Homo sapiens: one gene and its partners. The protein of the gene in region 2 interacts with the protein of the main gene of each other region in a pairwise test. Each region holds a gene or a part of one and is shown on either strand. Other genes may lie near its edges. The genes, in order: NRF1, TESMIN and FNDC3B.

Region 1 (3,753 bases), on a different chromosome or scaffold from region 2:
CAGGCTCATAGGCAGAGGGACTTGCCTTGTCTCAGATGAGAATTTGGACTGTGGACTTTTAAGTTAATGCTGAAATGAGTTAAGACTTTGGGGGACTGTTAGAAAGGCATGATTGGTTTTGAAATGTGAGGACATGAAATTTGGGAGGGGCCAGGGGTGGAATAATATGGTTTGGCTCTATGTCCCCACTCAAATCTCATCTTGAATTGTACTCTCATAATTCCCACATGTTGTGGGAAGGACCCGGTGGGAGGTAATTGAATCATGGGGGCAGATCTTTCCCATGCTGTTCTTGTGATAGTGAATAAGTCTCACAAGATCTGATGGTTTTAAAAGGAGGAGTTTCCCTGCACAAGCTCTCTCTCTTTTTGCCTGCTGTCATCCATGTAAGATGCGACCTGCTCTTCCTTGCCTTCCACCATGATTGTGAGGCCTCCCTAGCCAGGTGGAACTGTAAGTCCATTAAAACCTCTTTCTTCCCAGTCTTGGGTATCTCTTATCAGCAGCATGAAAATGGACTAATACAACAGCTAAAGAAGAAAATCTTCTGTCTTTCACAAGCTGAAAGACAGAAGAAACTACACAGAAAGATGATACATACAGAACAGATGGTTAAGAGACATACAAGTGAGGAAGACTAACATAAGTAACTGGAGCCATGGAATGAAAAGAGATGGAATGCAGCAGAAGCAAAATCTCATGGCTAAAATTTCCGGGAGAGGGGGGCAGGCCATGTGGGAGATAATCTTTGAAAGAGTAGCGGTTAGAATGAAATAGCTGAATTCTCAATAGCAGCAATGGAATCCAGAAGACAGTGGAACAGTACCTTCAACATGAGGAAAGAATAACCACCAAGCTAGAATTCCATACTCAGTGAAAACATCCTTCAAGGTTGAAGTTTAAGTAAAAACATTCACAGACAAGCAAAAATAGAACTTGTTACTAGCAGATCCATGTTAAAGCAAATATTAAATGGTGTCTTTAGGCAGAAGTAAAACCATCTCAGGAGACCAGTTGGAGATGCAGGAAAAAAAATTAACATTATTTTTTAAATAAAAATATTGTTCGCTGGATGCGGTGGCTCACGCCTATAATCCCAGCACTCTGGGAGGCCGAGATGGGTGGATCACCCGAGGTCAGGAATTCAAGACCGGCCTGGCCAACAGGGTGAAACCCCATCTCTACTAAAAACACAAAAATTAGCTGGGCATGGTGACGCACACCTGTAATCCCAGCTACTCGGGAGGCTGAGACAGGAGAGTTGCTCCAACCCAGGAGGCAGAAGCTGCAGTGAGCCAAGATTGTGCCACTGCACTCCAGCCTGGGCGACAGAGTGAGACTCCATCTCAAAAAAAAAAAAAAAAAAAAAAAGTCCTGTGGTGTTTAAAATACAGTTGTCCCTTCAAATCCTCTTGAGATTGTTTCTAGCATCTTGATGTGTAGATGCTCAAGTCCCTGATATAAAATGGTGTAGTAGTTTCACATGACCTATTCACGTCCTTCTGTATCATTTCTAGGTTACTAATACTAATATTATAATACCTAATACAGTGTAAATGCTATACAAATAGTTGTTGTATTGGCCTTTTATTTGTATTATTTTTAATTGTTATATTGTTACTTTTAATTTTTTCCTAATACTTTTGATCAAAATTGGTTGAATGTGCAGATGTGGAGCCCACAGATAAAGAGAGCCAACTGTATACCAAAAATGAATACAAAGGACAACAATAGCATATAGGATGGGCGCATGAAATGCAAGTGTTCTAAGAAATTTGTATTATCCCTGTAGAGGTTAAAAGTTCCAAGTACATACAACGTTTTGCTTTTCCTTTTTTTTTTTTTTTTCAACTGGACACAGGCTCTCACTCTGTCACTCACGCTGTAGTGCAGTGGTGTAATCATAGCTCACTGCACCCTCAAACACCTGGGCTCAAGTGATCAGTCATCCCACCACAGCCTCCCAAGTAGCTGGGACTAGGGAGCACGTCACCACACCCAGCTAATTTTTTTTTGGTAGAGATGGGATTGCACTACATTGCCCAGGCTGGTCTCAAACTCCTGGGCTCAAGTGATCCTCCCACCTTGGCCTCCCAAAGTGCTGGGATTACAGGTGTGAGCCACTGAGCCTAGTCAACATAAGGCATTGATAAATAAAGGATGTATGTTACAATTTCTACAGGTATTGATAATAGTAAAAGCTTATAACTTTCAAACTAACAAGAAAAAAATGAAAAAATACAAAATTTTCAATCACTACAAAAGAAAACGCCAAGAAAGAGAAAAGTAAACAGAACAGGTAGGGCAAAGAGAAAGCATATAGAAAAGAAGGTAAATTTAAATCTAAATACATGTCAGTGATTCTGTTTAACGTAATTGGAATAAATGCTTCAGTTTAAAGCCAAAACATAGGCAGAATAGATGAAAAAATAAAACCAAAGCCATAACACTGATAGTAAGTGATTACAGACCTCAAGTCTCAGTATAATACAGGCTCAAGTTATAACTGCAAGGCTTAAAAAAGTTGTGATAAAGGCCAGGCATAGTAACTCACACCCGTAATGCCAATAATTTAGGAGGCCGAGGCAGAAGGATCGCTTGAGCCCAGGACTTTGAGGCCAACCTGGGTAACACAGTGACATTTCTGTCTCTACAAAATATACAAAAATTAGCCAGATGTGGTGGTACACATCAGCAGTCCCAGCTACTCCAGAGGCTGAGATGGGAGAATCACTTGAACCCGGAAGATCAAGGCTGCAGTGAATCATGATTGTGCTGCTGCACCCCAGCCTGAGCAACAGAGTGAGACGCTGTCTCCAAAAAAAAAAAAAAAAAAATTAAAGAAGAGCTTCTAATCCAAACAACACTACCTGCAGCTGCCAGATGAGCTGTCACCTCATCAGCTGCTGTGGAGTTGAGTATATCTGAGTCATCGTAAGAGGTGTCCTCGGGAGAAGAAGGCGAGTCTTCATCAGCACTCAGCATACTATGCTCGGTGTAAGTAGCCACATGGACCTGCTGCACTTGCTGGGCCACTGCATGTGCTTCTATGGTAGCCATATGTTCGGTTTGGGTCACTCCGTGTTCCTCCATGAAGTTCTACTGTCAGACAAAAAAGAAAAAGAACAGGATTCAGTGTGTAATATAACACAATGTTTAAACTAAGAGATATTTTATTCAAGAGCAGAGGAACCTTGACAAAATTCCAATTTCACTACTTACCGTGCCACACCAAGTCACAGGAAATGGGAAGCACCATGCAAATGTGACATAAAAATGACAGAGTGGTGTTCTTACGTGAAACCATTTTGATGGAAATTCGCTGTACTAATTTTATACCTCAGATCACAAAACAACAGATACCCTTAATAATAAAAAGACATTCAAATATAACAATAAAAACATACTTAAGATAGCTCAGTGACTAGCATTTGGCCTTGTGAACATAAGAACACTTAGTAAATAAGTGAAATACTTAACATTTTCTTTGTATGTCAAAGACGAGTGAGAGTCAAATAACTTTTTTCCCAAAAATTCAAATTGGTCTTTCTGCTTATAAAACTGCTTCTTGAGGGCATGGCGGCAAGTGCCTGTAGTCCCAGCACTTTGGGAGGCCCAGGCAGGTGGATCATCTGAGGTCAGGAGTTCGAGACCAGCCTGGCCAACATGGCAAAACCCTGTCTCTATTAAAAATACAAAAAAATTAGCCAGGCGTGGTGGTGGGCGCCTGTAATCCCAGCTACTTGGGAGGCT
Region 2 (3,753 bases):
AGAGCAAGAGTCCGTCTCAAAAAAACAAAACAAACAAACAAACAAAAAACAAGAAAAAACAAACAAACAAACAAACACCTCTTGGAGGCAGGAATATGCTGATCTCCATAATCAACTACAGGGCTCAACGAATGGAGAGGGTTGCCCAAACCACTGTTAATACATAAATGTTAACCTGATAATTTCAACCAGCTGATTAGTTTAATTAGCAACAATTATAAACACAAGACAGGCAAGAAATAGCAAGATTATAAACACAAGACAGGCAAGAAATAGCAAGATGAGGTCCCAGATAAGTGCAGCCTATGTCCACCTGGAGATGTGAAGACAGATCATGCATTAGCACCTGCCATAGAGCTCGAGCCAACTCAGCATGGAAGGCAGCGGGCGGAGGCAGCTGGAGGGCACTCTGCAGCCCCCCGTTCATGCTGCATGGCTGCCACACCATTATTTCCACGGACGACAGCAAAAAAGAGAGGCCAGTACAGTTTGAATCAACATGGAATGAAGACAAAGAGCTATAAATGGCAACAAGCCTCAGAAACACCAACATAGGACAGCGGACAGGAGGACAGGGACAGATGCAGGTTATGGGCCAGACTTTCCAGCAGCCTTTGCAGCCCCAGTGAAACCAGACACAGACAGCAACACCGTTAGTGGCATTGCTGATGGTAAAAACATTTCTCAGAAGTCATGAAGGTGTGCAGTGAAGCTCATTTTATAGTATAGAAGAAAATCGTGAACGTATCCAAGAGTCTCTTAAATTATTACATTAGAGTGACAATGTATTGCTTCTAATCCTTACCCAGCCAAAGTTATTTTTGGTGGTCCTGGAAGAGTTGATCCCGAGGGGAAAGCAGACCCGTTGACTACCGATGGTAAGGCTCCCTCAAGCTGTTCAAAGTCAAAGGCAAGGATATTTTGAATTAGCAAGGATTTTTAAAGTTCCAGTCAGCCAGCCCCCTAGATAAAAATGATTCTTTTTTTCCCTAAAGGTTTACATCACCATCCCTTTATAACCATGTCTGGCCTTATTACCACAAGGAATCCACTGACATTCGGAAGGTCTAGTGCTGAGGTGTGTCACAGCCTGTCTGGAAGTGTGCAAAGATGTCTGGAAGTGTGCAAAGATGCAGGGCTGGCCTCCACGGGCTGGAGGCCGTCCATAGCTGTCACTCAGCTGGCCAGGGGTATTGTCATGGAACTCCTTTTCATTTTTATAGACTATCAATTATGAAATAAATTTAATGACAAATTTCCATAAACTAGAAATGTTCTTATACAGATCTTGACATTTGAAGTCTTGTTGGCAACCATGATTTTTCATGTATTCAAAAAAATATTTTGTAACCAGTTTTAACAAATTCAAAAGCAATGTCATCATCTCTGCATTGTCCATGTTCTTTGCTTTCCCAGGTCTCATCTTTCTTTATGTTACTCATTAGCATGGCCTGTGGAGGCTGTTCACAGGGAAAGGAACAGGCAGCAAAGCCATCACTGGCCTACTTCTCTTCTACTCAGTAGCTTGAAGAAATTAACAGTACTAAATACAATTAGGTTTTCAGATTATTTGCATATATCACAATTAAACCTCATATCCTTGTCCCTTCCTCTGTCCAAAAATGGAAATGTATCTTTAAATAAATTTATTTTTAAAGCTTTAAGAAGTATAGTCTTAGAAAAAAAATGCGTCTTGTATTCATCCTCTGCACTTCCTCCATTCTGTGCCCAGTTTAAACTGTGTGTCATCACCATCCATTACGGCTGGAAGACACTGAGAAAGCCTCCTGGGTCCCACTGCCTCATTTACAATCAGTCTTAAGTCCCCAGGCTTCTTCCCGGGAAACCCCTTCCTGCTCTCCTCTTGCTCGTGCACAGAAGGGAGTGCTCACAAGGCCCTGAGACAGGTGTCCCTTTTGCCCTCACCTGGACACCTAATTGTTAGGCCCCTGTCTTCAAATGTCAGTCTGAAGAGTTTTGCATTCTTTTGGAGAAAGGATGTCATAGTTCTCAGGATTGAGGCAATTATTCGCATAAACCAGGTAAAATTACTTTTTTTCCCCCTTTGCTTATTTAGCCCCAAAGTAAAGCAGAGACATCTCTTATGTACTCCATAGGTTGTAAATCCAGGGCAACTTTATGCTGGAATCCACGAGTTTCTTCAGCAATGTTTGGTCCTCTTGGAGTGAAGGAAGTCAACTCGGAGGCAGGGCTTCTCAGACTCTGCTGTGTGCACAAGTCACCTGGGGCCTTTATGAAAATGCAAATCTGATTCAGGGGGTCTGAATCCCAGGTTTGGGGTGGAACCTGAGGTTCTGCACTTCTTAACAAGCTCCCAGGTGATCCCAACAGTTCTGGTCCATGGACCACACTTTGGGTGGTAACACTCCAAAGAATATACAGAACTGGGGTCTGGCAAGGAAGCAAACGATTCTCGAGAAGCAGCAAATGCATTGCTAAAAGAATTGTCCTTGAGGTCCATGCTGGATAAGGGGCCAAAATGGGGACGATAATAAACAGTCAAGGAAAGGTGGGGGAAGGTGGGGAGACAGCAAGTTGTGGCCAAATGGGTGTTTCTCATGGAAGATCTTAGAGGTGAAAGAGCAAGTACAATGTGTGCCTTCTGGACTGGTGGCTGAAACAGCAGAGAAAGGAAGGCCAGCAGCGTGGAGGGGGCCAGACGGTAGGAGGATTCTATGAGGTTCCAACACAGACTGCATCTGCGTGCTCGCCAGATCCCGACTTACACTCACCTCCTGCACTGATAACACTCTCTTTTATCTTGGCCAATGTATCACTTGAGAAGTATTTACTCACTCATTCAACAAATATCTAATTCAATTTACACTCACTTCCTTTGAGATCTCATCTATTCATATGGCTTTCAACGCCATCTATACACTAGGACTCCCAATCTCATCCCTCCTGCCCAGCCCTTCCTCACTCTAAACTCCTACGCAACATCTTCTGAGGCATCCCAAATTTAATATATCCAAACGGAACTCCTGGACGCCTTTGAAAAACTTGTACCATCTCATCTTTGTTGATGGAAACTCCATCTCTCCAATCATCCAGGCTGAAAACCTTGGGCGCATCCTTGACTCCTCTCTTTCTCTCACATCCCACATCCAATCCATCAGCAAATCCTGTTGACTCAACCTTCAAAGTATCCCTAGAAGCTATTTCTTGCCACCTCCACTGCCACCACCTGATCTGAGCGATCATCTCTCCCCGAGATTATTGCCATAACAGGCTCACCGTTCTCCTTGACCCCTCCTCCCCACCAGCCCCTCTTTAGAGTGGAAGCCATAATCCTCCCAGTGCCTTGACTTCCTCCCTGCCCTGCTCCCCTAGCTCACACTATCCCAGGCCCAGTGGCCTCCTCGCTGCCACCACAGCAGGCATGACCCTATCCAAGGCCCGCCTGGGATGTTCCACAGCTTGCTTCACAGAGCTCATTCCCTCATCTCTTTAAAGGCTTTGCTCAAATGTCACCTTCACAACGGAGCCATGATCACCTTTTTTAAACCTGCAACTAGGCTTTTTCCCCATCAAATCCCCATCCCCCCAATCCGCTTCCTCTGCTCTCCTAACAGATGATGTAATTGGCTTCCTATTAGATTTGCTAATTGTCTATCTCCTGCAGTAAAATGTAAGCTGCAGGAGGGCGGAGTTGTGTGTTTTGTTTTCTGAGGTTCACTTACCTCACAGATCAGTGCCTGCCCTTATTGAAGGGTGAGTGGGTGCCCTACA
Region 3 (3,753 bases), on a different chromosome or scaffold from region 2:
TTATACATTATCTCATTAAAATTCTAGTATTTTCGATTTAGGTTGTGTTATGCACACTTTACAAACAAGGGGATTGAGATTTACAGAGAGAGAGTAACTTGCATAAGATCACGTAGCTACCAATGGTGTCATCCAATGGAATTTTCTTCAGTGTTGGAAATGGTTCTGTCTGTGCTGTCCAGCATAGCAGCCACAAGCCACATGTAACTGAGTCTTTGAAATGTAGCTAGTGGACTGAGGAACAACAGTTTAAGTTTTTTTTTTTTTTTTTGAAATGGAGTCTCGCTCTGTCGCCCAGGCTGGAGTGAGTGCAGTGGCGCAATCTCGGCTCACTGCAACCTCCGCCTTGCTGGTTGAGATGGATTCTCGCTCTGTAGCCCAGGCTGGAGTGCAGTGGCGCGGTCTCGGCTAACTGCAACCTCCGCCTCCCGGATTCAAGCGATTCTCCTGCCTTAGCCTCCCGAGTAGCTGGGATTACAGGCGCTTGCCACCACGCCCGGCTAATTTTTTGTATTTTTTAGTAGAGACGGGTTTTCACCATGTTAGCCAGGCTGGTCACGAACTCCTGACTTCAGGTGATCCACCCGCCTCGGGCTCCCAGAGTGCTGGAATTACAGGCGTGAGCCACCACACCCGGACTAAGTTTTATTTACTTGTAATTATTTTAAACTTAAATTTCCACTTGTGGCTAGTGGTTACCATATTGGAGAGCAAAGTGTAGAACTTTTTGACTCCCAAATCTTTCACATGTAGCTTGGTCATATTGCTCTTTATTTTACTTTGAGACAGACTCTCGCTCTGTTACCCCGGCTGGAGTGCAGCGGCATGATCACTGGCTCACTCACTGTAGCCTCCACCTCCCAGGCTGAAGTGATCCTCTCCCCTTAGCCTCTCCAGTAGCTGGTACTACAGGTGTGCACGCCACCATGCCAGGCTATTTATTATTATTATTGTTTTTTTGTAGAGACAGGTCTCACTAGGTTGTCCAGGCTGCATACTGCTCTTTAGATCTCTTAGTTCATTTTTCTTTCTTCTACGATATCAGAAGTTACATTCAGCCCTTAAATGGAATTTAAAGACTGAGTTAGCTATAGCTCAACTTTGCTTTCATATGTAGAGTGGATAAAATACGCACATTATTTGTTAACTCTTTGGTTTTAAAAACAATGTTTACATGTCATAGTTAAAACTGGTGGAAAAATCTTTAAATTGTATCTTTTTTGGTTTAATATAGGAATTGTGCATAGGAATTGCTGAAAAAGTAGTCAGAACTTGTTGGTTATTTTAGTGTAATAAGAGTACAAATAGGAAGCAATATGAAAAGTCACTAATAGAAAGCTGAAAAAAACGATCCTCTCATACCCGCGTCCATCCGTTCATTGGACAGTTCTTTTCAGACTTTGTAAGTATCAGTAAACCATTACTCACTTTTCCTTATGTAGCTGCAGAAGTAACCTGAAGAATTAAAATTATTCTTTTACTCTCAGTGTATAGAAATCAAATATCAAACACATTGGATTCATCCATGAATTGGGAAGAATATGTGTAAGATTAAAACAGTAAGAAAGATCTGTCCGATGGCAGATGTTCAAATCATTTTCTGATTAGTGGATTTAATTTAAATTCATTGAATTTTAGAGTTTCATTTGCTAAAAGGAATTTCAACAACTTTCTGATTTTGTATGGAATAGTGAAAATTCCAACTCTTTTTTTTTTTTTTTTTTTGGTGTGCTACCCTCAGGAAAAGGCAAATTATAATGTAATCTCTTTTTATTAGGATTTTTAAGAGGCAACTGCCAGGTTCAGTATAAATATATCTGAATCTATTGTATCTTCCATAGTTATGGTACTGTCCTGGGATAATTGCAGTTCATAGTCTTAACTCTAGACATATCCTGGAGGACCTATGTCTGTAAATTATCTTTGAATTGTTCTATGTTATTTTAGTGTTATGTGAATTACATTGCTTCCAGCTCTTTGAAAATCGTTAATTCAACTGCAGGTAAGGCGTCAGTTACTGAGACTGTTCAGATAACTGAAACATCCTGTTCATACCCATTCCTGACCATTGGGACCACTGTACTATTTTCAAGGATAAGATACCACTGTACTATTTTCAGGATAAGAACCATGTTATAAATAGAATTATAGTGTCCTAGTGAGTGTGACAAATATAGGAAACATGATTTAACCCATGACATATGGTTTGATTTGTAGGACATCCCCAAGTGCTTAATACAAATGAGAAATGTACTATAATCTTAAGGCATAAAGATGTTTAAATGATGGACAAAAATTGAGGGCCACATCTGAGCATCAGTTTGAAATCAGAATATCTCCTCTGTCAAGGAGTGACTTTACTTTCTAGCTGGGTCCTTGATAAGCTTTTGAATCTCTCTGAGTCTGGGTTTCCTCATTTTAATATAAGGAGGAAAGATCTAACTCGTACCTTTTCAAATGGTGTCACAAGGGATTAATGAGTCAGTGTATTGAGAAGTGTTTGGCAAAGCCTTATACAAACTCCATAGTTCATTATATTCCAGAGTTTAAAACTGAGCTGGTGCTATGGTATTTCTCTGCACATTTTCAGAGACCTCCAAATTGTGCTTGGACAGTTTGAAAAATGATTTATTTTTCTCTTTGTGATCAGTAAACAAGGTCCAAGCTTTAGATGTTGTATTTTATTTTACCCCACTCCTAATGGAATAGGTGATTTGTGACCTCTGCAAAGTTGTACTATACATAAGTTGTCCCATATCTGTGTTTTTGGGAAGCTGGTCTGTAGCTGGGCTAGTGTTGCTGAAGTGGGCAGGCCAGGCTTGATTCAGGGCTGTTTTTGAGGTGGCGGGAAAAAGTGCAGTCTCTTAGAGGAACGTTCAGTACTGAATGATAAAGGAATAAGGTTTTAGGCCTTGTATGTTACCTTAGCCTATTACTTGAGCTTTCAGCAATTACAGCTGAGAATGGAAAAGAATCGTATTTTCAGTGTAGGGGAGTCTTTGCAACCTACCTGCCTTTCCACTTTAGAAATCACAATTGCCTTTTCTTCTTGTTAACGAGGTTAATCCATTAAGTGGGATATTTATATGGTAAGACATTATTTTCAAGTAAATTAATTCTCACTCTTAAGGCTGTTGAGAATTCACTTAGGTGGTTGAGGAGAAGCTTTGTACTTTAGTTTACTGAGTGTCTCTCTCTCTCTCTCTCTCTCTCTCTCTATATATATATATACACTTTGCCTTAAAATATATATTATGGTTATGGCATTATGTGTTGTAAAGAGGGAGAGAATGCTTGAATTATTGTGGCTAGATAGGGGCAGGTAGACAAGCACAGGCCCAACTGGAAGGATGACTTGATGGTAGTTGAGCACTTTGCAAGGTACCTCCAGTGAGATGCCAGACCCTAGTAACAAGCTCACCTGGAGGGGAGTTTGTTTGTGGTGCAGGTTTAATGTCAAGGACCAGTTCTTGGAAACAGAAGGTATGTGGGGTGCCAGTTGAAGATCAGGGGACAGAAATGTTTTTAAAACCACCAAGTATAAATCACATAAGATCGATAGACAGTCGTGATCAGCCATCTACATACAGATGAGGATGTTTGTCAGTTTGAAAATGGATCGATTGTTGAATTTTTCTTTGTTTCTCCCCAGTTAAGATATGCAAGTTTAGCATTCTGTAAGTGTTGGATCAGAATTTCTGATGCCCTTGGCACTCACTACTCAGTGTCAGTTTAGACATTGGCTCCTAATTT

What was found.
Region 1: the proteins of TESMIN (region 2) and NRF1 interact in binary tests that used the Homo sapiens proteins (3 or more experiments, as listed by UniProt).
Region 3: the proteins of TESMIN (region 2) and FNDC3B interact in binary tests that used the Homo sapiens proteins (3 or more experiments, as listed by UniProt).

Annotation. Positions count from the first base shown.
Region 1 is NC_000007.14:129,656,692-129,660,444, reverse strand, and holds part of NRF1 (nuclear respiratory factor 1), read right to left. Parts: intron 3,103-3,753; exon of another isoform or gene 3,100-3,102; 5' UTR 3,094-3,099; coding exon 2,871-3,093; intron 1-2,870. UniProt on the Homo sapiens protein: Transcription factor that activates the expression of the EIF2S1 (EIF2-alpha) gene. Links the transcriptional modulation of key metabolic genes to cellular growth and development.
Region 2 is NC_000011.10:68,737,895-68,741,647, forward strand, and holds part of TESMIN (tesmin), read right to left. Parts: intron 895-3,753; coding exon 806-894; coding exon of another isoform or gene 802-805; exon of another isoform or gene 1-801.
Region 3 is NC_000003.12:172,042,578-172,046,330, forward strand, and holds part of FNDC3B (fibronectin type III domain-containing protein 3B), read left to right. Parts: intron 1-3,753. UniProt on the Homo sapiens protein: May be a positive regulator of adipogenesis.